3 linked regions of the Homo sapiens genome follow. The protein of the gene in region 1 purifies or fractionates together with the protein of each later gene. This does not show direct contact. Each region holds a gene or a part of one and is shown in the gene's direction. Other genes may lie near its edges.

Region 1 (7,745 bases):
GGCTCATCTCAGGCTGCAGACCCAGCACGTGAAGCAACAGCCAGGCTAGGGGTTGCTCAACCTCCCAGAAGCCTGAGCTGCAACAGGGAAGTGAACCAGCAGGCATTCAACATCCCCAAACCTCCCAGAGACAGCTGGGCTATAGCTTGTGGTGGGAGCAATACAGGACGATGGTGACCCTTATGTGTTCTATTTATTTTACTTAAATAGTTTATTTAAGCTTGCTCTTTTAAGTGAAATTTAACACCCATTCACCAGAGTGCATAAACTAAACCTGCATCACCCAATGAAGCCAAAACCCATCTCCAGCCCCCCGTGCCCCTTCCAGGCCTAAGGGCTCCCCCTCCTAAGGGAGCGGTCGTCTCACTGGCCCCTGCTAAGGGAGCGGTCATCTCACTGGCATGGTCTGGGCCTTTTTCTCCACGTTGCCACCGAGCATGCATTCCTTCACACTGCTGTTCAGTTTTGCCCACTTTCAAACTCTGTACAGATGCAAATGAACAGTTCGCATGCCTTAGTGCTGGCGCCCTGGATGCTCCGTGTGCTTGCGGATTTCAACAAAGCTTTTGCGTGAAGCTGGAATCCGATCATTTTATGGGTCTACAGGATGCTCCAGTATGAACGAACCTCAGCTGACGGCCCCATTCTGCTGCGGATGGACGTTTGGGTTGTTTCCGGCGTGGGGCTGGACATTTTCACACGTGTCTTCTTTCCAGCTGGGCACACCTCTCTGTTGAGTAGAACTGAGCTGAACATCGCTGGTTATGGAATATGCTGGTCGTAGGGAATTGTTGGGAATACTGCCAGTTTTCCGAAGTGCTTGTACCAAGGTTTCTGACACTTCTTCACCAAAACCTTGCAGAGTTGGCTGTTTAGAAAAATTTTAGTGTCTGCAGTCATCTCATGAGATTTAAGTTTTCATTTCTTGGATTAGTTATGAAGTTGAGCATGTTTTCATACTTCCATCATCTATTAAATATTATCTTTTATAAGCGTTTGTTGAAGTCACTTTCCCACTTTCTACAACATCGTTGATTTACAGAAACCCTTTATTCTGGATACAAGCCTTTTGTCACTTCTGTGTGTTGAAACCTCTCTTCCCTCACCCTGGCTCGTCTTTTCCCTCCCACGGTGGTGTATTTTGAAAAAGAAATAATACTATTTTCATGATCAATTTTTCCACTTGTCCTTTATGGTTTGTGGTTTTCCATCTTATTTAAAATAACTGCAAGGCTATTGGAGATCTTATAATATGATCTAAAACTGCTGTTTTCCCTCTCACATTTGGGTCTACCCTTCTCCTGATGTGGATTTTTTTTTCATCTGATAAAAGTCAAGTGTAACTTCTTGTTTTTCCATATGACTCTCCAGTAGTTTGTGCCACTCATTGAAAGTTTATTCTTTCACTATTGCTCTTTAGAGCCACCATGTCATAAATCTAGGGTCCGTATGTGCCTGGATTTGCTTCTGCACTCCCTACTCACTTCCCTAGGTTTGCTGTGTACGCCTAAGCCAGCCCCACACTGTCTCCATCACTATCGCTTGATAATGACTGCTGGTGTCACTTCAAGCAACTCACCCTTGTTTTTTCTTGCTCAAGAATAGCATGGCTATCAGCCTCTTGCCTTTATATAAATTTTATTTATTTATTTATTTATTTGTTTATTTATTTAGACAGAGTTTCACTCTGTTGCCCAGGCTGGAGTGCAGTGGTGCAATCTCGGCTCACTGCAACCTCCACCTCCCGGGTTCAAGCAATTCTCCCACCTCAGCCTCCTGAGTAGCTGGGACTACAGGCATGTACCACCACACCCTGCTAAATATATATATTATATATTTTTTGAGATGGAATCTCACTCTGTCGTCCAGGCTGGAGTACAGTGGCTCGATCTTGGCTCACTGCAACCTCCGCCTCCTGGGTTCAAGCAATTCTCCTGTCTCAGCCTCCTAAGTAGCTGGGTTTACAGGTGCCCACCATCATGCCTAGCTAATTTTTGTATTTTTAGTAGAGACAGGGTTTTACCATGTTGGCCAGGCTGGTCTTGAATTCCTGACCTCAAGTAATCTACCTGTCTCAGCCTCCTAAAGTGATGGGATTACAGGTGTGAGCCACTGCACCCGGCCCTTTATATAAATTTTAAATTCACCATGTCAATTGTCACAGAAAATGGTAGTTTAATTGATAATACAGTGGATATTTAGATAAATTAAGAGAAGATGAATGTTTTTCCTATATTTGGTATTCTAATCCACACATATAGAATATCCTTCTAATTATTTTAATCTTCTTTTAGGTCTTTCTGTTCCTATTTGATAGTTTTGTACACAGAAGACCAGCATGGATGTTGTTAGACTTATTCACAGTTATTTGAATTTGGTGTTGCTGATGCAAATTTTTTAAATTTCATTTTTAAATTCTTTGAGGCTAGTTTTTAGAAGCACAATTGATTTTTGCTAAACTTTTTATTCTGCTAGTTTATCTGTAGAAACTCTAGAATTTTCTACATCCTCAATCATGTCTTCTGAAAATAACAACTTTGTGTCTGCCTTTCCAATCTTTTTATGGTTTTGTTCTCTTGCCTACTGCACTGGACAGTGACATGCAATACAATGTTGACCACAGTGGTGATGACAAGCATCCTTATTTGTTCTCAGTCTCTGAGGATGGTTTTCCATTTTTCCTGTTAATTATGTTGTAACTTCTGTATCCACAGCTTCCAAAGACCTCTTTCTATATTCTGTTGTTTCTGTTGGTCCTTATACACATTGTCTTTTATTCCCATGAGCCTGGTTATCGTTGATTGTGTTTTAACATTTCATTTGAAAAAAATAAAACACTTTGCAGAAATAATGACCTGGGATGATGTCATTCTCCTTCAGAGAAGATTTTTGTTTCTTTCAGCAAGGAGCCTGGGGGCATGAGCAATAATTCCAGGAGTTGAGATTCCTTTCCTGGGACACTTAGATGTCTCAAAACCAGTTTGCAGCCCTTGTGAATGTTGGTTGTTGCTCACTCATCCTATTGCTAGGGTGCAGCCCTTCTGAAAGCCAACCCCAAACCCATACCTTTGGCAGGCCGTAGGCCCCAGTCTTTGACCTTCAGCTCTGCAAGATGGTGAAATCACTGCCCAACTTCTCACCTCTCTTTTGGAGATTGGCAAATCCCTGTGCAAAAAGAGGTCCCCACTACTAGTTTCACTTCTCTAAGATTTCTGTGGCTCCTGAGAGCTTGGCAAAGTAATCCTTTACTACATAGCTAGCTTGACGGTGCCTTCGAGCAAATCTCTTTTTAAAGGTTTTGTCTGTTTGTCCTTAATAGGATGCCCCCAAATACCTAAACTGCCATTGCCAGGAATCAAATGACTTTTGTTGATCCAATGTTAAGATATTTTAACTTGCCAGAATCTTGCATTCTTTCATACTCTTGGGAACATTGACTTGATATCTGAAGGTGGTGTTGACTTCTCACCTGAAATAAACCTATTGATGTTGCAAGGAAGAGGAGGTCCCCTCACACCCAGGGGGCAGCTGGCAAATGGAATTGAGGGGCACAGACCTGCTGGCTTTCTCCCTGTTCTGACCCAATCCCAGGTGAGTGCTGCTCCTGAATTGGATCCTCTCCAAGAAAGGAGGCCGCACCACTGACACCCAGACCTCTCCCGCCTGGGCCAGTAGCTCAGGGACACTAAGCGGTGTCTGAGGCAATGAAGCCTCCTGCCGTTGTCTCTCAACAGGCTGGAGCCAACACACACAAACACACACAGTCGAGAGTCGTTGTGGTGCCCAGAGAGCCTGGACACAAGGTCCTGTGTCTCCTGGATCCCCCACCCCTGGGCCGCCCCTCCACTTCTCTCCCACCTGGGGAGCCCTTGAGTTTGGAAACCCAGTCTACACACGCTGGCTCAGAGAAGTTGCAAACCACAAAACAACACCTCTCCCTGCTCCTTAGTCCTGCTACCATCTGACTCTCGTTAGTGACTATTTCTATACGTTCTAAAAATCCCGCACAAAGTGTCCACAGCGTGGCCTGGCTAAGCATGATTCACAGCACGAGATGCGGAGTAGGAACATGGCCTCAGGGATTTGGGGGAACAAGAGGCATCCCCACCTTCAGGTGAAATGAGCAATCCCAGTGATCTACAAGGCGTTAGACAGAATTGAGTCCAATGCCTGGCTCTTACTAGTGGAGTGACTTCAATTTCTCCAGCTGTAACTTTCAAATAATTTACTCCACCGAATGGGGCTGGTGCAAGATGATATGATGGAAATAGTATTTGGGACATAACAAGTGCTCAACATTTTTTTCCTCTCCATCCATGATAAGTGCCTGATGACGGACAAACCCTGAATTTTCTGGGAACAGATGAGGCAAGGAAGCGTCTTCAGCAAAACCTTCCTTATCCCCCAAGGTTAAGGTCAAGGTTTCCGAGTATTGCTTGGGGACAGCTGGGGAATGGAAAGGGGGTGTGGGGGCTGTGTTCTCCTTAAGCCACAAGCAAAGCCGATGCTTTCCAGCAGAGGAGTCTCAGGAGCTCTCTGGACTGGGAGCAGGGTGTCTTTGCTGGGGGAAGAGAGCCCAATGGGGTGGGCATCTTGCTGGAGCCTAGTGGAAGGAAACATCCTTTGAGATGACCTCATACCTCCTGTTGGTGCAACTAAGCAGCCCATAGGAAGTGGGTGTCCCCCAGGGAGTTGAGAAACTGTGGCACAAGGCGAGAGCTGGTTTCCTCTGCCCTGTTAGAGCTGGGGGACTCTTCAGAGTCAAAGGCCAGAGAGCATGGAGCTGAGTGGAGCCACCATGGCCCGGGGGCTCGCTGTCCTGCTAGTCTTGTTCCTGCATATCAAGAACCTGCCTGCCCAGGCTGCGGACACATGTCCAGGTGAGACAGACCTGGGTTTTCTGGTCCCTAAAAGCTGGTAACAACCCCACTCACTGACACTCGGGTGTCCCAGGCAAAACCTTTTATGCACATCTTCCTGTGAAGATGCCCAACAGATCTGTTTTATCCTCAGGCAAGGACATGGAGGCTCAGGGCAGCTGAGGCATTGCCCAGGGTCATGGAGGGATAGGGGAGGGATGTCACCAGGTCTGTCTGCCTCGAAAGCCCAGGATTTGCCCATTGGAGCTTCATAGGTGGGTCTGGAATCTGTCACTGAGAAGGAAGAAAATACTGTTGACTTTATCTTCTTACGGGCTTACCAGGGAGGCACTCTAAGACCCTCTAATACGGTGGCTGCCACACGGACTTGGGGGGTTTGTTAAAAAGGCAGATTTCTGGCTCTCCTCCAAGAGAGTCGGAATCAGTTGATAGGGACAAGGGTTTGAACGGTGGTAAGGTGTTTCCCTCACTGATTCAGGAGCAGGTGGTTCTGTGACGCTCAGCAAGAGACTGCTCCTAAGGACGGCCTGGTGCCCCTGGCTGATAACATATTTATGAAGGAAACATAAATAGTAAATTACAGCCTGCTCTAGTGGAAGGAGGACTGGAAACACAGAAAGGAAATACCCCAAAAATGGCAGTGCCATGTCTCCGGTGAGAGCACTGCTCCGTTCCATGGTCTCTAAGAGCGCCCTTAGCAGGGCGTGTAGATTTTGTAATGAACAAAATGAAAAATATTTTTTCAAAGAAGTAAACAACTTTGGTTTGGCTGCAGCTGTGCCACACCTGGCTCTGTGTCCTTGGACCCCACACTGCCCCTCTCCAGAGGACCTAGAAAGCCCCTTCCAGCCCAGTAATTCTACAACCACATTCCCAAGGTCTGGGAGGGAAAATGCTTTGTCAGCCCCAATTCCCCAAGTTTCTTAGAAATATTGATTGTCATTAGTTATTGAAAGTGCCCGCTGTTTATTAAGCTCTTTCTAAATGCCATAAATTACAATAAGAGATTTAAAATGCACATTCTTTAACCAAATCCTGGCCGCAACCTTGTTATTATCCCCGCTTGGCAGCCCAGGGCACAAAGCTCAGAGGAGTTAAGTTACTTGCTGCAGGACACACAGCACTGAGGAGATGGGGCTCCCCTAGGTCGGGGTGGCCTCCAAAGCCAGAGCTCTGCCCCCCATCACATCTCCGCCTCACCAGTGCCTGAGGGGTGAGGACAGACCAAGGCCCCAGCAGAGCAGAAAACCTCACTTCCCAGCCACTGTTGGGCCAGGCACTGAGTGGGCACCTGTGTTTCTCTGCAGAGGTGAAGGTGGTGGGCCTGGAGGGCTCTGACAAGCTCACCATTCTCCGAGGCTGCCCGGGGCTGCCCGGGGCCCCAGGGCCAAAGGGAGAGGCAGGTGTCATTGGAGAGAGAGGTAGGTGCGGGCCGGGTGGGGAGGCCAGGCATGGCAGGGGCACTGGCTCTTGCTCTTTATGAAACTGGATGCAGAGTTGGGCAACACCCCCACCGTGGTTCCTAGATCAAGAGCCTGGGTCAGGCCCCTGCTAGAGCCAGGAACAGAGCTGACTCCCAGGGCCCAACAGGGTTCTGAAATGGAGGGAGGGTCTTTCCTAACTATTTCATGAGCTCACATTTGGACATGCTTCTGTAGCTCTGTCTCCTAGTCCTTGATCCAATACCAGCTTTGCTCAGCTACTGGCACGACTTCTAAGCTCTGTGTCCCTCCACCTTCTCACCTGAAAATTGAGGTGACCGCTTTCTTCTGCACCTGCCTCATATGGGAAAACTGAGACTCAAAGAGGTCACAGGCTTTCCTACTTGACAAACCAGTAAGGAGTGGGGCTGGGACTTGGACTGGTCTACTTCAGGGCACAGAGGGCACCCGAATCCTGAGCCCTGAGCTCTGCATGTGGATTTGCAGGGAACATGGGAGAATGAACAGCAGGCACCTGCCTTGGGTGGTTTTGGGTCCCCCTAAGCATGGCATAAGGCAGACGTGCACAAAAACTCAGAAAGGGCGCTGCCTTAGGGGGTGAGCTCCCCATGCCTGGACGCATTCAAGATGATGCCTGCGGAGCACTTGGTGGGGATGTCCCAGTGTAGATGGGACAAGCTCAAATGTCCCTATGACTTGGACTTTCACTGACGTGTCTAGGCTTCCGTGTGGGTGTCCGGGGCCAGGTCCTCTGTGCCCACTCCGCAGGCTGGACCTGAGAGTGCGGTCCCGATCCCCTGCTGAGGGAACACTGGGGAGGAAGACCTTCCCTGGCAGGAGAAGAATCAAGTCTGGCTCAGACTTCCCTTGAACCAGGCTTCTACCAGTGGGCATGGCTGGCTAATATACCCTAAAGCAAGAACCAGCCCCCATACACTCTCCCCAGCCACTGGGGTCAGCGAGCGGGCTGGGGGCTGCCTCTTGGCTGGCATCGGGGACGGGAGGGTCACCTTTCTGGCCAGAACCACGTGGAGCGCTGTGTGACACCCCAGGAGCTCAGGCGCACGGTGGAACCGGATCCTCCCTGGCAGCAGCGGCTGCACGTGGCGCCCACCCTCTCCGTGTGGGGACGTGGTAGGATGAGGCTCTCTGAGGACGCATTCTTTGTTCCAGAACCTGGTCCCTTGCTAGGCAGTAGAGCTCTGTGTGGGTGACTTGGGTCCAGGCTTATGGTCAACAGAGTGTGAAACCCAGGTTGCTCCCAAGGCACAAACAGGAGCAAGGTGCACCTTGCCTTGAGCCCAAGGTGGGGTGCAGGCCCCTCCCTCAATCCCTCACCTCCATCTGCAGTCACCCCCAGGCTAAATCCATGGCTAGCAATTCTGAGAGCTCCTGGAACCAGAAGGGGTTCAAGGCAGAGTGG
Region 2 (7,025 bases), on another chromosome or scaffold:
AGTGAGAAGGAAGTGACTACATTTTATTTACTTCTATGCGTGTAAGTCCATAAGATCTTATATAAAGTTTCCACTTCGGTTGAGGAATATGTACTTTTTTGAATTACATAGGTTTTTGCTTTATATTGTTTTACAGCATGGCCTCACACCACTGTTACTTGGTGTACATGAGCAAAAACAGCAAGTCGTGAAATTTTTAATTAAGAAAAAAGCGAATTTAAATGCACTGGATAGATATGGAAGGTATAGTTCTTTCTTTTAATCTGTGTGTTGTAGATGGACAGCAGTCACTCAAGTCATAAATATTAAATTAATAAGATTAATGTATACTTACTGGGATGTAGTGATCAGTATCAACACAAATCAGTTAGGTAGAAAAACAATTACTTGGGCTGGGCAACATAAAGAACAGTTTTAGTAGGATTCATCTTCTCTTATTATATTGACTGATGTTATTTGTTATGTGACATTTTTGGTTACATGATCTTATGTTAGCTTAAAGGATTTCATATTAATTTTATGAAGTTTGAACTTTAACTTTTAGTTTACTTTATGACTCAGTATTGAACTTCTTAACCCTTTCTAATAGTTTTTAACCTGTGTCTTACATGCTTTTCCATTAAATATGCTGTATTAAACATAAATAGGGGTTGAAAATCCTTTTGTCTTTTTAATGACTTTGCTTTAAGTTGCTTTCTTTGAAGAATATTAGTGTTAGCTTATCCCTACATAACAATTAATTGCTGTTCCCACATACTGTGGGTTCAACAGCTTTTTTCCTTTTGTTTTTCCAGTGTATTTTGATGTTTTTATTTTTAATTGGTATGGAGAGAGGGAGTGAAGATAGTTTTAAGTGGATACACTTTTCCTTTAATGAAGACAAGCCGTACGTGGGTGATAAAGAGAAAAGAGCTAGGCTTTGGATTCACACAAGACTGGGTTTAATTAGTAACTTTCTTACTTGCTAGGTGTGTGACCTTGGGGACGTTATTTACCACCAAATATGTTGTCATATATGAAAAGTAGGAGAATATATCCTTCAAAGTTGGCTGTGCATAAGTAAGAAAGATATATGTGGCATTTAATTCAGTGCCTAGCACATGGTTATTGGCACCATTAACTGAAACTCCTATGACTACTATTCTTACCATTATTATTACTGCTTTGAGCATGCAGAGAGCTCTTATTTCTCTTACCCCCTAGCTGATTTTCTATTACAGCATGTCAGTCTAGGGAAGCTGTGACAAAATCTTCACTTAAATCTTTGTCCACCTCAGATAAGTGGCCCTAACATTGTTTCTTGCCCATCAAAGGACTTTAAATTAGTAGCTTCTGCTATGCAATACCCCACTGAGATAAGAGGGTTTTTTTTGGTCCCTTCCTTTTAACCTTGGTGGCATTTTACAAAGATGAACACTTGAGCACTCAGGTTGCTTATGTCTTTTAGTGCATGTAAATGTTTGATTCTGCACAGACAGGCAAGATGTTACATTGGTAAAGTATATCAAATTAGCTTTAAAAATAACTTTATTACAGTTCCTATCTCTGTCATTTTAGAACTGCTCTCATACTTGCTGTATGTTGTGGATCAGCAAGTATAGTCAGCCTTCTACTTGAGCAAAATATTGATGTATCTTCTCAAGATCTATCTGGACAGACGGCCAGAGAGTATGCTGTTTCTAGTCATCATCATGTGTAAGTGTTTACATTAAAAGGCTAGTTAATGCTGAATTGAGGTTTAAAATAATTATAACAGTTGCATCTCACATATCAGGTGAGATGTCATAGTTTGGTTCAGGTAGTTTTCGCGTGGCAGTGAGTTTTAGTCCCCTGCATCAGCCAGAAATCAGACAAAAAGCAAGACAAGTTAGAAGTACCAATGGGTGCGGGATTCTTTATCTCAGGACTTTTAAGATCTTTATCCTTAGAGATCCCAGCATTGTTCATTTGATCCAAGTGTAACACCTATGCAGGGATAAAAAATAGTGTCACATCTTTAATTTTTCTGATTAGTTATTTGGGTCTTGAAATGTCCAGTTTAGCGGAAAGTCTTGTACTGTCTTCTGGGGACTATGTCCTACATACTCCTTGAATTTTTCAAGAACCGAAGGAGTTCACTAAATCCAAGGAAGACAGTCCCTTTTATCAAGTCAGAAGGAGGAGGAAAAAAGACATTGCAATCATTCTGTTGTTTCCGTTGATTCTGTTGCTGCTTTGTGGCCACTCAAACTGGTCCTGCTGCCTTAAGATGAATCAGTAGATTCAGATCCCTCAAGTCTTCATGGCGATTCATACAGTGACTTTGATGTTTTTTAATTCCCATACCTATGCTTATATGCTCAGCCATTGTTCCCAGAGCACCAGCCCCCTGCTCTGGCCGCTGGGCATCCTGACTTTATCCGCACACAAAGTGACCAAATTGACCCTTCCCCGCATATTCAGAACCTAATGTGGAACCCACATCTTAGCCAGGAATTAGCTGAGACCTTCATGGTAAGAGATCCTTTGAGGCTGTTGTTGGTCTTTTCTCTGGCAGATGTTAGGTGGGCTTGTTCTAAAGGGTGAGAGGGGTTCAAATAATGTGGCAGAAGGAGGTCAGTGTCTGTTTCCTCTTTGCTACCAGATCTGTACTGTGAGGCACCTTTATATCCTGTATAGAACCTTGGGCAGTAGAAAGTCCCGTATGAACCTTGCCCTGAGCAGTGGCTCCCAGCTGTGGTTGGCCCCTTGAGTGATCTGATTTACATGATAATGAAAATTATCGGAGCTACTTCCATCTCTAGCTCAAGATTTTAAGATATTTTCAAACTCTAGCTCACAGGAAGCCATTGAAGAGAATTCTCAGAATCTCAAGTAGGTTAGTTGGACTTCACAGAGCCAAGCCTTGTCCATGACGCATCACTAATCATATGTAAAAGTAGGGCTTTGTGCTTGCTTCGGCGGCACATATCCTAAAATTGGAACAATACGGGGAAAGTTAGCGTGGCTTCTGCATAAGGAGGCAGGACAGATCTTTGAAGCATTCCATATTTTGTGCAGTCACTGGAAGGTCATTTGACTATTTTTGCTGACTAGCTCTGAGGAAATAGTGTGAATCAAAGCAAAATGGGTGCCACCCAAATATTGAAATTGTGATTTGTGCTGCAAAAATAGTCATGTAAGATGGTCTATGAGATGACTTTGAGCTGAATAACATGTTCCGTGCAAAATATATTGTTAGTATGTATGTCGAAAATTACAGAATGTCAGCTTGCTACTTCTCCGTGGAAACTAAAAAAAAAATAAAAGTAGACTTTTGGTCTCCCATGTCAGCTGGAATTGAACATCAATATAAAGCATTATCCTAACAGACATCTACTGGCTGAGAGTTTGAGTCGGTAGAGAAGGATCGTTGGTCCAAGTCAGGTCTTAACATCCATTGGTTTTTCTGCCCTTGGTGTGATTGATCAACTCCGTAATAGTGGACAATCACATTATCTACTTTAATGAGATATTTATGAATAAATTTAGTTATAAACTATGACATAGTTGAGATGCCCTGAATTATAAGCCATAAAGAGTAGGACAACTAAGAAGCAAAATTAGGACTTAATAACATTTTCTGAAAACTACAACATTTGCATATTAGAACCTATGAACAAAATACGCATTGGGTTTTATTTGGGATTCCAAGATAATTTTAGTCATAAAGTTTAGGAACAGATTATTCCATTGCTTTACTATTTCTCTGAGCATTTAAAAAATGTTATCTCGTTAAATCTTTATAACAACCTAGTGAAATAAGGCAGCAAAGTCCTCACTTTGTTGAAGAAGACATTGAGCCTAAGAGAAGCAAGTTGTCCAAGAACAAATAGCTGTTCATTATGGAGCTAGGACTTATGCAGAGTTGGGACACTTTCTATTATGTCATGCTAATGCTAGCTAATTTACTGGGTCACAGTGCCCTCGATTTATGACTATTTCACCTTACATTTTTTTCTTCTTTAATTAGAAGCTTAAAGAGAAGTTTGTAGAATGTACTCACAAGTGGGTGGGATAATACTATTAAGTTCTGTTATTCTGATATTGTTTGAAATACTCTTAATAATTCTACATTTGGTAAGTTTTTTTATATCAGTATTAAAATAGTAATTTGGTTTATTACATTTTTATACATAGAATTTGCCAGTTACTTTCTGACTACAAAGAAAAACAGATGCTAAAAATCTCTTCTGAAAACAGCAATCCAGGTAAGACTTGTGATAGTGAATTACTTTAGTCAGTTGTCCCCAATCTTTTTGACACCAGGGACCGGTTTTGTGGAAGACAATTTTTCCATGGGCTGGGGGAGGGTGGGGATGGTTTCAGGATTATTCAATCATGTTACATTTATTGTGCTACTTTATATTATTATCACATTGTAATATATAATGAAATAATTATACAACTTACCATAATGTAGAATCCGTGGAAGCTCTGAACTTATTTTTCTGCAACTGGATGGTCTCATCTGGGGGCAAAGTGAGACAGTGACAGATCATCAGGCATTAGATTCTCATACGAAGCACACAACCTAGATCCCTCAGATGGGCAGTTCACAACAGGGTTCATGCTCCAATGAGTATCTAATGCTATCACTGATCTGACTGGAGGCAGAGTAGAGGCTGTAATATGAGCCATAAGGAGTGGCTGTAAATACAGATGAAGCTTCCCTGGCTTGCCTGCTGCTCACCTCCTCCTGTGTGGTGTGGTTCATAATAGTCCATGGACTGGTATGAGTCTGTGGCCTGGGAGTTGAGGACCCCTGCTCTGCGTGGTCCTACCATAGATAAAAAAGTAAAAGTAAGGAATTTTTGATCACAAAAGAACACTGAAGCACAAGTCATGTTACATATGCTTGTCCCAATAAGTTCTCACTATTACTGACTTCATTCCTCCTCATTTGAAGTTGGAAAGAGATATATTTACTTTGTTGGAACAAGATGTGTTCTTCTACCTGCTGGTTAATTGTCATCATAACAGTAATTTTGTTAGAACAAGATGCTCTGCTACCATTTGCCAAAAGATTGTCATAATAAATATACAAATTGCCCAACTCTAGGCTCAGCAGATTATAATAAAAGCAGAAAAACGTTTCACGCTAACAAAAATGCTAGTATGCTACCTGGTTGTGGACACCTAATACATTATATTGTCCAAACTGTGTGAGGACACCTTTAATTTAGTCATCTATTTATCAAAGAGCTTTTGTAAGTTAGGTTTTATAAGTTGCAGGAGACAAAGATGGAATAGATGTAGTTTTGATCTTTAAGGTGCTCATAATAGAGCTGTCTCCATTTCATTTCTGTGCTTTTTCAACAGAATTTACAAAGAAAACATTTCTATTTATGTTTTCACTTGTCCACTTAACATATAACTATCAAATGTCTTTTAGATAGTAACCATTTTTCTAATGCTATAGACCACAAACAATTAAAAATACAGACAGGAGCTTTTTGTTATCATTGTCATTTTCATTATTTTACTACTTTATTCAGTGCTTACTGTGTGCTAGATGCCCACTGGAAGCTTATAATTATGATTTATTATATATTGATTATGTGCCAGACATATGTGATGAGGAATGAAAGTTTTGGGAAAAAGTAGGTATGATTTAAGGTAAGCATGCAGAGAGAGAAGAATTTTTCTAGGTAAAGAAGCAGAAGAAGAATGTTTGGCAGAAGGAACATGCAGCGAGGTCGTGTGTTTGCCAGAAGGAACATCTAATGAGATTGCCTGTTTGGGAGGAAGAGCAGCAAGTGCAAAAGACAAGATGCTTGAGTGAACATGGCAGGGTTTCTGAGCAGTTCACTTTTGCTAGTACCAAAAGTGTGTGATACGAGAGGTTGGGAATGAGGTGAATACTTAGCTAAGGCAAGTTTATGATAGACTTTTTAATACTATAGAAATGAGTAGGTCTTATCCTGTGTGCCATGGGAAATTTACTGGGTAGAATGCTTTGGACTGCAAATACTAGATGAACAGTGGCTAAAACAGTAGGAACCAGAGTTGTTTTGGTTGTTCATTGATATCCTAGGATCCCACTTTTCCCTCTTTCAGCTGTGCTGTTGACAGTGTTTTATTCACGTCTCCTTTCATGGTTGGCTAATCCGCAGCAGCTCCAAACATCTTGTTCTCACAACACAACATCGCAAGGGCTGCTTTTCTTCACATGTGTCTTTTAAACAGGGAGAAAACTTAGAAGCATGCAAAGGGCTTCCTGTAACATTTCACTGGCTGGGTCACACCACATGCTCATTCCCAAACCAGGCACTGGGAAGGTAAATACCTGATTAGCTTAGAATAAACATTTCTGTTTCTGAGGCTGAGGAGGGGGATTGGGATAATAAATATCCCAATAGACTTGGATTTCTTCTTCAAGAAAGAATAAGGAATGGCTATTGATAGGGAGCCAACAATGTGTGCTGCAGGGGCTCATTGGAGAAATTTGAGCAGGGGAGTCACAAGATTAAATTTGAGTATTAAGGCATTCTGGTTATGGTGTAAAACGGGTTAGCAAGCTTTTTCTGTAAATGGCCAGGTGGGCAATATTTTAGACTATGTGGTCTCTGTCATATCTACTTAACCCTGCTGTTGTCTGCTGTTGTAGTGTGAAAGCCACCATGATTATATGTAAGCAAACAGGCATGACTGAGCTCCTATAAAACTTTATTTACAAAGCCATAAGGCAGATTGGATTTGGCCTGTGGCCTATAGTTTGCTGGGATTGATGGAAGGTTCTTTACCATGTAAAGAAACCAGGAGACAAAGGAAGTTTTCGCAGTAGTCAGCTATAGTTTCCTTGTCATACATCCTTGGAGTAGCATCAATGTATTACAAGGTTTTCACCCGTCCTTAGTGAAATACATAAAGTTAGGAATCTCAACTACTTGTTTTAATATGTTGGCCTTTGTTTTTTTGGTGTTATGCTTTTTTCATTTGTTTTGCTTAATTTTTTTTATGTAAGAAATAACATTAATAGTTGGCAGGCTTTTTTTTAAATAAAA
Region 3 (7,025 bases), on another chromosome or scaffold:
TGTTCATGGTACTTTGCTTTCCTATGTATTTTATAATTTTTACTTCTGTGCTCTGCAACTCTAGCTGCAGGAATACTTTGAAACCAGACTGTGAATATGTTCTTCTGGGTGTGATTTATGTTAGTTTCTGACAGGCGCTGGAGACCTGGTCCACTTTAAATTATGACTCTAAGCATACAGTTGTTAGGACTATACAAGTAGTATAGGTTCCACACTCGGGATGACGTTTCGTACAATAGCTATACAAAGTCAGAGCTGAGACATATACTTTTCCCTTGTTTGGCTTAAACAGCAGAAATTGATTGTCTCACCGTTCTGGAGGCTAGAAGTCCAAGTTCAAGGGTGGCTTCCTTCTGAAGCCTGTGAGGGAGAATCTGCTTCAGGGCTGTCCCCTAGCTGCTGGTGATTTGCTGTCAATCTTTGCTGTTCCTTGACTTGTAGACGCATCATCATGCTCTCTGCCTTCATCTTCACATGGTGTTCTCCTTCTGTGTATGTCTGTGTCCAAATTTCTGCCTTTTTTTATTTTTATTTTTTTTTGAGACGGAGTCTCACTTTGTCTCCCAGGCTGGAGTGCAGTGGTGCAATCACGGCTCTCTGAACCCTCCGCCTCCTGGGTTCAAGCGATTCTCCTGCCTCAGCCTCCTGAGTAGCTGGGATGACAGGTGTGTGCCACCATACCCGGCTAATTTTTGTATTTTTAGTGGAGATGGGGTTTTGCCACGTTGGCCAGGCTGGACTCGAACTCCTGACCTCATGATCCGCCCTCCTCGGCCTTCCAAAGTGCTGGGATTACAGGCCTGAGCCACCGCGCCTGGCCCAAATTTCCATCTTTTATACGGTCACCAGTATATTAGATGAGGGACCCACCCTACTTCAGTATGACCGCATCTCAGCTAATTACATCTACACTGACCCTGTTTCCGAATATGGTCATATTGTGAGGTCCTGGGATTTCAACATAGGAATATTGGGAGCACGTAATACATAAGCCATAGCAGTGTCTTAACCTGGGTTTTCCGCCAGAAAGCAAAGTCTGAGACGTGGGTTTATGTGCATATTTTATTCTAGGACATGATCCTGAGGAACAGAAGTGAGAGACTGAGGAGAGTTCAACAGGGAAAAGGGAAAGTCAGTCCAAGGTGTTCTCAAGTCAGACACTATTAGAAACCGATGCCTGTTTTTGCTGTCTTCTGAAAAGTGGATATTTTTCTTCCTAATTCACTCTTTCCCTGAGATTATGACACTTCCTGGGCCTCCACTTTTGGAAAATGGTCTTCAGTTGGGTTCTTTCCTTATCTAGGCTAACACTTGTCCCTCATCTCCGTTGTGGCCTAAACAACAGGCCAGCTGGTCCAGTACCTGCCTTGGGTCCCCAGTCACTGCCCTTGAGCAGCTCCTGTTTTATTCCTGGATTCAGCACGTTCCCCTTACTGTCTTGCAGGCCATCCAGTCACTTAGAAGATGGTTTTTAAACATTTATTAAGCAATCTTAAATGTTCTGAAGTAGACAGTTTCAAGATCTCTAGTCTGCCATGTTGCTAGAAACAGAATAGAAATGACTTACTTAAAAAAATAGAGTAAATTCAAGACTGTCCTTATACCATTTCACACAGGTATGTTCTGATAGACTGTTGGGATTAGAGAAACGAGGTGTTGTTATGCATTTTGATAGTTGCTCAGTTCTCAGCCTGGGCTGCAGAGGACAGTCCCTGGGCCCTGGGCTTTCATCAGTGGCTGGGCCATCACTTGTCCTTTTTCTCTAGGCTATGTCATACCTGAATTATCGGTGGAGAGGCCTCAACTTACTAAATGATAATGACAGCAGTCACAAGTTAAGGAATACAAAAGTTTGAATGGATGATGGGATAATGTTGGCTTTTGTTGTCAGAACTTGGTATCCTTGGATTTCATTCATTCATTCATTCATTCATTCATCAATCCAAGTGATGTCAATTGAGCTCCTAGCACTTATTGTGCTAGGCACTGGGGAGACAGGTAAACAATGCCTGTCCTTAGGAAGCCCAGAATCTAGTGATCAGATAGTTCATTTCAGTGGGCATGATAAGGACAGGGAGAAGCCTAGGGAGAGGCACGAATCCAACTTCAGAGCATCGAGGATGAAGCTCATATCTGTGCTGCATCTGAAGGGCCAGAAGGAGCCATCCATATAGAGAGCTGGGGAAGGGCATTCCAGGCGGGGGTGAGAGGATCCATCCATGTAGAGAGCTGGGAAGGGCATTCCAGGCGGGGGTGAGAATGTGCACAGCCATGGAGGCCAGAGAGTGTTTGGGTTTGGGGCACTGCAGGTGCCAGAGCATAGCTGGGAAGGCCTAGAGTGGGGCAGGAAATGGTGAAAGCTGAGGCTGCAGGAAGCCTGGGGCCTTCATGTGGAAGCCTCAGCAACTGTGTTGGGGAGCACAGCTGAGGAACTGGGGAACTCTCTTACTTGGGTAGTGAGAGATGCAATGAGTTGTCATGTTCATTTCTCGTAGCAGCCAGCTCCTATCACTGAAGAGAAAACACACAGGCCTTGGAGTCAAGGAAGCCTTATATTCAGATTCCAGTTCCACTCTGTCTGGGTGGTCTTATAATTGATTTATTTACCTTCTGGAAACCTTTCTTTACTCATGTCATAAATGAGAGAAAATGGACTGAACAGCCCCCTCTGTTTCCAGTATCCTACGGTTCTGTGGGAAAAACTGTAAATATGCCCTCCCCACCCCCACACATACACAGCTTAGGTAAAAACAGTGCCCAAGTTTAGGAATATTTGCAGATATTGTCCTGATGGTAATTCTGTCAATTTCTCGTTTCCAGCTAGCTGTTTAACTTCTGACGGTGATTCATGGATATTTATGGTGAATGGATGTTTGTTAAATGAGTAAATTCTCATGCCTGAAACAAAACGTTAGCTGTGTGACTTCCAATGCATTGCACTAACCCAGCTCTGATTTTCTTGATAGATGAGCTCTCTCCGGAACAGCACAACCTTTCTTTATACTCCATGGAGCTCGTGCTGAAGAAAAGCACTGGGCACAGCGCTGCACAAGTGGCCTTAACAGAAACTGCTCCCGGCTCCCAGCACAGCAGTCCTCTCCATGTCACAGCCCCGCCGTCTGCCACTACTTTTGATACAGCCTTTTTTAACCAAGGAAAACAGACCAAAAGTACAGCAGATCCCAGCATCTTTGTGGCAACTTACGTGTCAGTGACGAGTAAAGAGGTGGCCGTCAATGACGATGAGATGGATAACTTTCTGCCAGATACTCACTGGACCACTCCACGGATGGTTTCTCCAATACAGTATATCACAGTCAGCCCACCAGGGCTGCCCAGGGAAGCATTAGAACCTATGCTCACTCCATCATTACCCATGGTTTCTTTACAAGATGAAGAAGTGACATCGGGCTGGCAGAACACAACGCGACAACCAGCGGCATATGCTGAGTCCGCCAGTCATTTCCACACCTTTCGGTCAGCTTTTCGCACCTCTGAGGGCATCGTTCCAACTCCTGGCAGGAATTTGGTGCTTTATCCTACTGATGCTTACAGTCATTTATCAAGCAGGACTCTGCCAGAGATTGTGGCTTCCCTAACAGAGGGTGTGGAAACCACCCTTTTTTTAAGCTCCCGGTCTTTAATGCCACAGCCGTTAGGCGACGGCATTACTATACCGTTGCCCTCCTTGGGGGAGGTCTCACAGCCTCCAGAGGAGGTTTGGGCCACAAGTGCAGACAGATACACTGATGTGACCACTGTGTTGAGTCAAAGCCTAGAAGAAACCATCTCTCCAAGAACATACCCCACTGTGACTGCATCGCACGCAGCCCTTGCATTCAGCAGGACACATTCTCCATTGCTTTCAACTCCTCTTGCATTTGCGTCCTCTGCTTCACCAACTGATGTTTCATCTAACCCCTTTCTCCCTAGCGACTCCAGCAAAACATCCGAATTGCATAGCAATTCAGCCCTCCCCGGTCCTGTGGACAACACTCATATCCTGAGCCCGGTGTCCTCATTCAGACCATACACTTGGTGTGCGGCCTGCACTGTGCCTTCACCTCAGCAAGTTCTGGCCACGAGCCTCATGGAGAAAGACGTGGGATCAGGGGATGGTGCCGAGACTCTGTGCATGACCGTGCTGGAAGAAAGCAGCATCTCTCTAATGAGTAGCGTCGTAGCAGACTTCTCTGAATTTGAGGAAGATCCTCAAGTATTTAATACGCTTTTCCCCTCCAGACCTATCGTCCCACTTTCTTCTAGATCCATGGAAATCTCAGAGACGAGTGTTGGCATTTCTGCCGAGGTGGATATGAGTAGTGTTACAACCACACAGGTTCCCCCTGCCCACGGCCGCCTCTCTGTGCCGGCGTCACTTGATCCTACTGCTGGCTCCTTGTCTGTTGCTGAAACCCAAGTGACGCCATCCAGCGTGACCACTGCATTTTTCTCGGTCATCACCAGCATTCTCCTTGACTCATCTTTCTCTGTCATAGCAAACAAAAACACACCGTCGCTTGCCGTCAGAGACCCGAGTGTTTTTACGCCTTATAGTCTGGTTCCTTCAGTGGAGTCTTCACTTTTCTCTGACCAAGAACGTTCCAGTTTTTCTGAGCATAAACCCAGAGGTGCTTTGGATTTTGCATCCAGCTTTTTCTCAACACCCCCGCTGGAACTCAGCGGCTCCATCTCTTCGCCTTCGGAAGCACCTGCGTCTCTGTCTCTGATGCCGAGTGACTTGTCCCCCTTCACATCTCAGTCTTTTTCTCCCTTGGTTGAGACATTTACATTGTTTGACTCTAGTGATCTGCAGTCATCTCAGCTGTCTCTTCCCAGTTCCACAAATCTTGAGTTTTCGCAGCTCCAGCCAAGTTCCGAGCTGCCTTTAAACACCATCATGTTGCTACCTAGCCGTTCTGAGGTGTCACCATGGTCAAGCTTCCCTTCTGATTCTCTCGAGTTTGTTGAAGCGTCTACGGTTTCACTGACGGATTCAGAAGCTCATTTTACCTCAGCTTTCATTGAAACTACCTCCTATCTTGAGTCTTCACTCATTTCCCATGAATCCGCAGTCACTGCACTGGTGCCCCCCGGCTCTGAGTCTTTTGACATTTTGACTGCCGGGATTCAAGCAACATCACCATTGACCACTGTCCACACAACGCCCATTTTAACTGAGTCTTCTTTGTTCTCAACTCTGACACCTCCTGACGACCAAATCAGTGCTCTAGACGGTCACGTGTCTGTCCTGGCCTCTTTCTCCAAAGCCATTCCCACTGGTACGGTGTTGATCACTGACGCGTACCTGCCATCAGGATCCTCGTTTGTTTCTGAAGCAACCCCCTTCCCTCTGCCCACAGAGCTGACCGTCGTGGGCCCATCACTCACACCCACAGAGGTGCCACTGAACACCTCCACGGAAGTGAGCACAACCAGCACCGGTGCTGCCACTGGTGGTCCCCTCGACTCCACCCTGATGGGTGACGCCGCAAGTCAGAGCCCCCCAGAGAGTAGTGCTGCTCCTCCCCTGCCATCCCTGCGTCCCGTGACTGCCTTCACTCTCGAAGCAACAGTCGACACACCAACACTGGCTACTGCCAAGCCGCCATATGTTTGTGATATCACAGTCCCCGATGCCTATCTGATCACAACTGGTAAGGCCCAGCTTCCTGCCGCCTCTCTGGGGTGGGCAATCTTTCTAAGGAGCTTGTGTGCAGTGCCTGTGAGGCTTGGAGCTTCATGGTTAAGAGCAGAGGCGCTGGGCTCAGTTAACTCCCAGGTAGTACTCCTATGCTTACCTCCTGCGAGTTCTCAGAACAGTTATTTATCCTCTCTAATCGTCTGCTGCCTCACCCATTAAACAAGGAGCTTAGTTAAACCTGCTTCATTGGGCTGTTGTTCAGATGTAAATGCGTTAGTCCCTGCAGAACGCTCAGCCCTTGCCTAGTACATCAGAGGCATGCACGGGATGGTGCATATTAGTCAGCAGTCACAAGGAGAATAAATATTAGAACAAATACAAGAACTAAACAAGCCTTGGAAGTTCTTGGTAGGATCTTTGTCCTACCATAACCCAGTAGGTGCATGGATGACATAGTTTAAACAAAATACTTTTTTGTTTAATTCAAGCAATGAGTTGGGCAACTATGTAAGGGCAACCCTTGCAATTTCTTACTCATTTACTCTTCTTACTTTTCCTTGAAAGGAGACTGCACTTTGCTCTCATAGGTCCCTGTAAATGCCCCTTGGGTCCCGAGGAAAGAAAAGTAAAGTGACTCTTTGCTCTTATAGGTCCCTGTAAATGCTCCTTGGGTCCCGAGGAAAGAAAAGTAGTGACTAAATATCCTCTGAATCCAGTATCAGCCTTTGGTCTCCTCCCCACCACAGCCTGGGTTGCTAGCAGACTGGCCAGCAGCTTCCCTTGCAGTTGCATGGCTGCTGTGGCCGCGTGAAGCTGGTGCCCACCTGAGGGCATGCCTGAGAGGTAGACTGATTTCAAGGGTCATGTCCCGCGACGGTGGCCCGCTTGGTCAGGGTCTCTGCATTTTTCCTCATGAGACATGACAGGTGTATGTGGTCTCGAGGGTCATGACTGTGTGCTGAACCACAGCCTGGTGGTGACGAGCAGCCTGTCCTCTGTTTTGATTTTGGTAGGAGTGGAGGACAGAAATGAAAAAGGGGACGAAAACGGCAGAAGAGGTAGGGAGGAGTGGGGTGGAGTGGACCGGGAAGGAGAGGAGCAGAGAATGTGGAAGGGGGAGAAGGAGGAGAACACGCTGGGTCTTTTCCTCTCTGTGGTCGGGGTTGCTGGGAGCCTCTGCTCACTGTGACAGTGCCACATCCCTCTGGGCAGGTGGGAGCGAGGATCCTGATGGCAGGTACACGTCAGTGATCAACACCCTACCTGTGGGAATGGCTTTGGAGAATGAGTCCAGGACAGCCTTTGCTCCCCACACGCCAAAGGGAAACATTCGTTATTCCACATGGCAAGTAATGATTGAGCACCTAGTATGTGTGAGGTG

Evidence for each region. Proteins that work in one complex are often made in the same cells at the same time.
Region 2: the proteins of FCN1 (region 1) and POTEF purify together in Homo sapiens (affinity purification with mass spectrometry; 3 studies listed by BioGRID and IntAct, with this or other methods). This does not show direct contact.
Region 3: the proteins of FCN1 (region 1) and KIAA1549 purify together in Homo sapiens (affinity purification with mass spectrometry; 3 studies listed by BioGRID and IntAct, with this or other methods). This does not show direct contact.

Annotation. Positions count from the first base shown.
Region 1 is NC_000009.12:134,914,904-134,922,648, reverse strand, and holds the start of FCN1 (ficolin-1 precursor), read left to right. Parts: upstream 1-4,736; 5' UTR 4,737-4,777; coding exon 4,778-4,880; intron 4,881-6,187; coding exon 6,188-6,301; intron 6,302-7,745.
Region 2 is NC_000002.12:130,105,213-130,112,237, reverse strand, and holds part of POTEF (POTE ankyrin domain family member F), read left to right. Parts: intron 1-136; coding exon 137-243; intron 244-1,557; coding exon 1,558-1,695; intron 1,696-1,880; exon of another isoform or gene 1,881-2,951; intron 2,952-4,153; exon of another isoform or gene 4,154-4,158; coding exon 4,159-4,229; intron 4,230-4,431; exon of another isoform or gene 4,432-4,651; intron 4,652-7,025.
Region 3 is NC_000007.14:138,915,380-138,922,404, reverse strand, and holds part of KIAA1549 (UPF0606 protein KIAA1549), read left to right. Parts: intron 1-2,966; coding exon 2,967-5,657; intron 5,658-7,025. UniProt on the Homo sapiens protein: May play a role in photoreceptor function.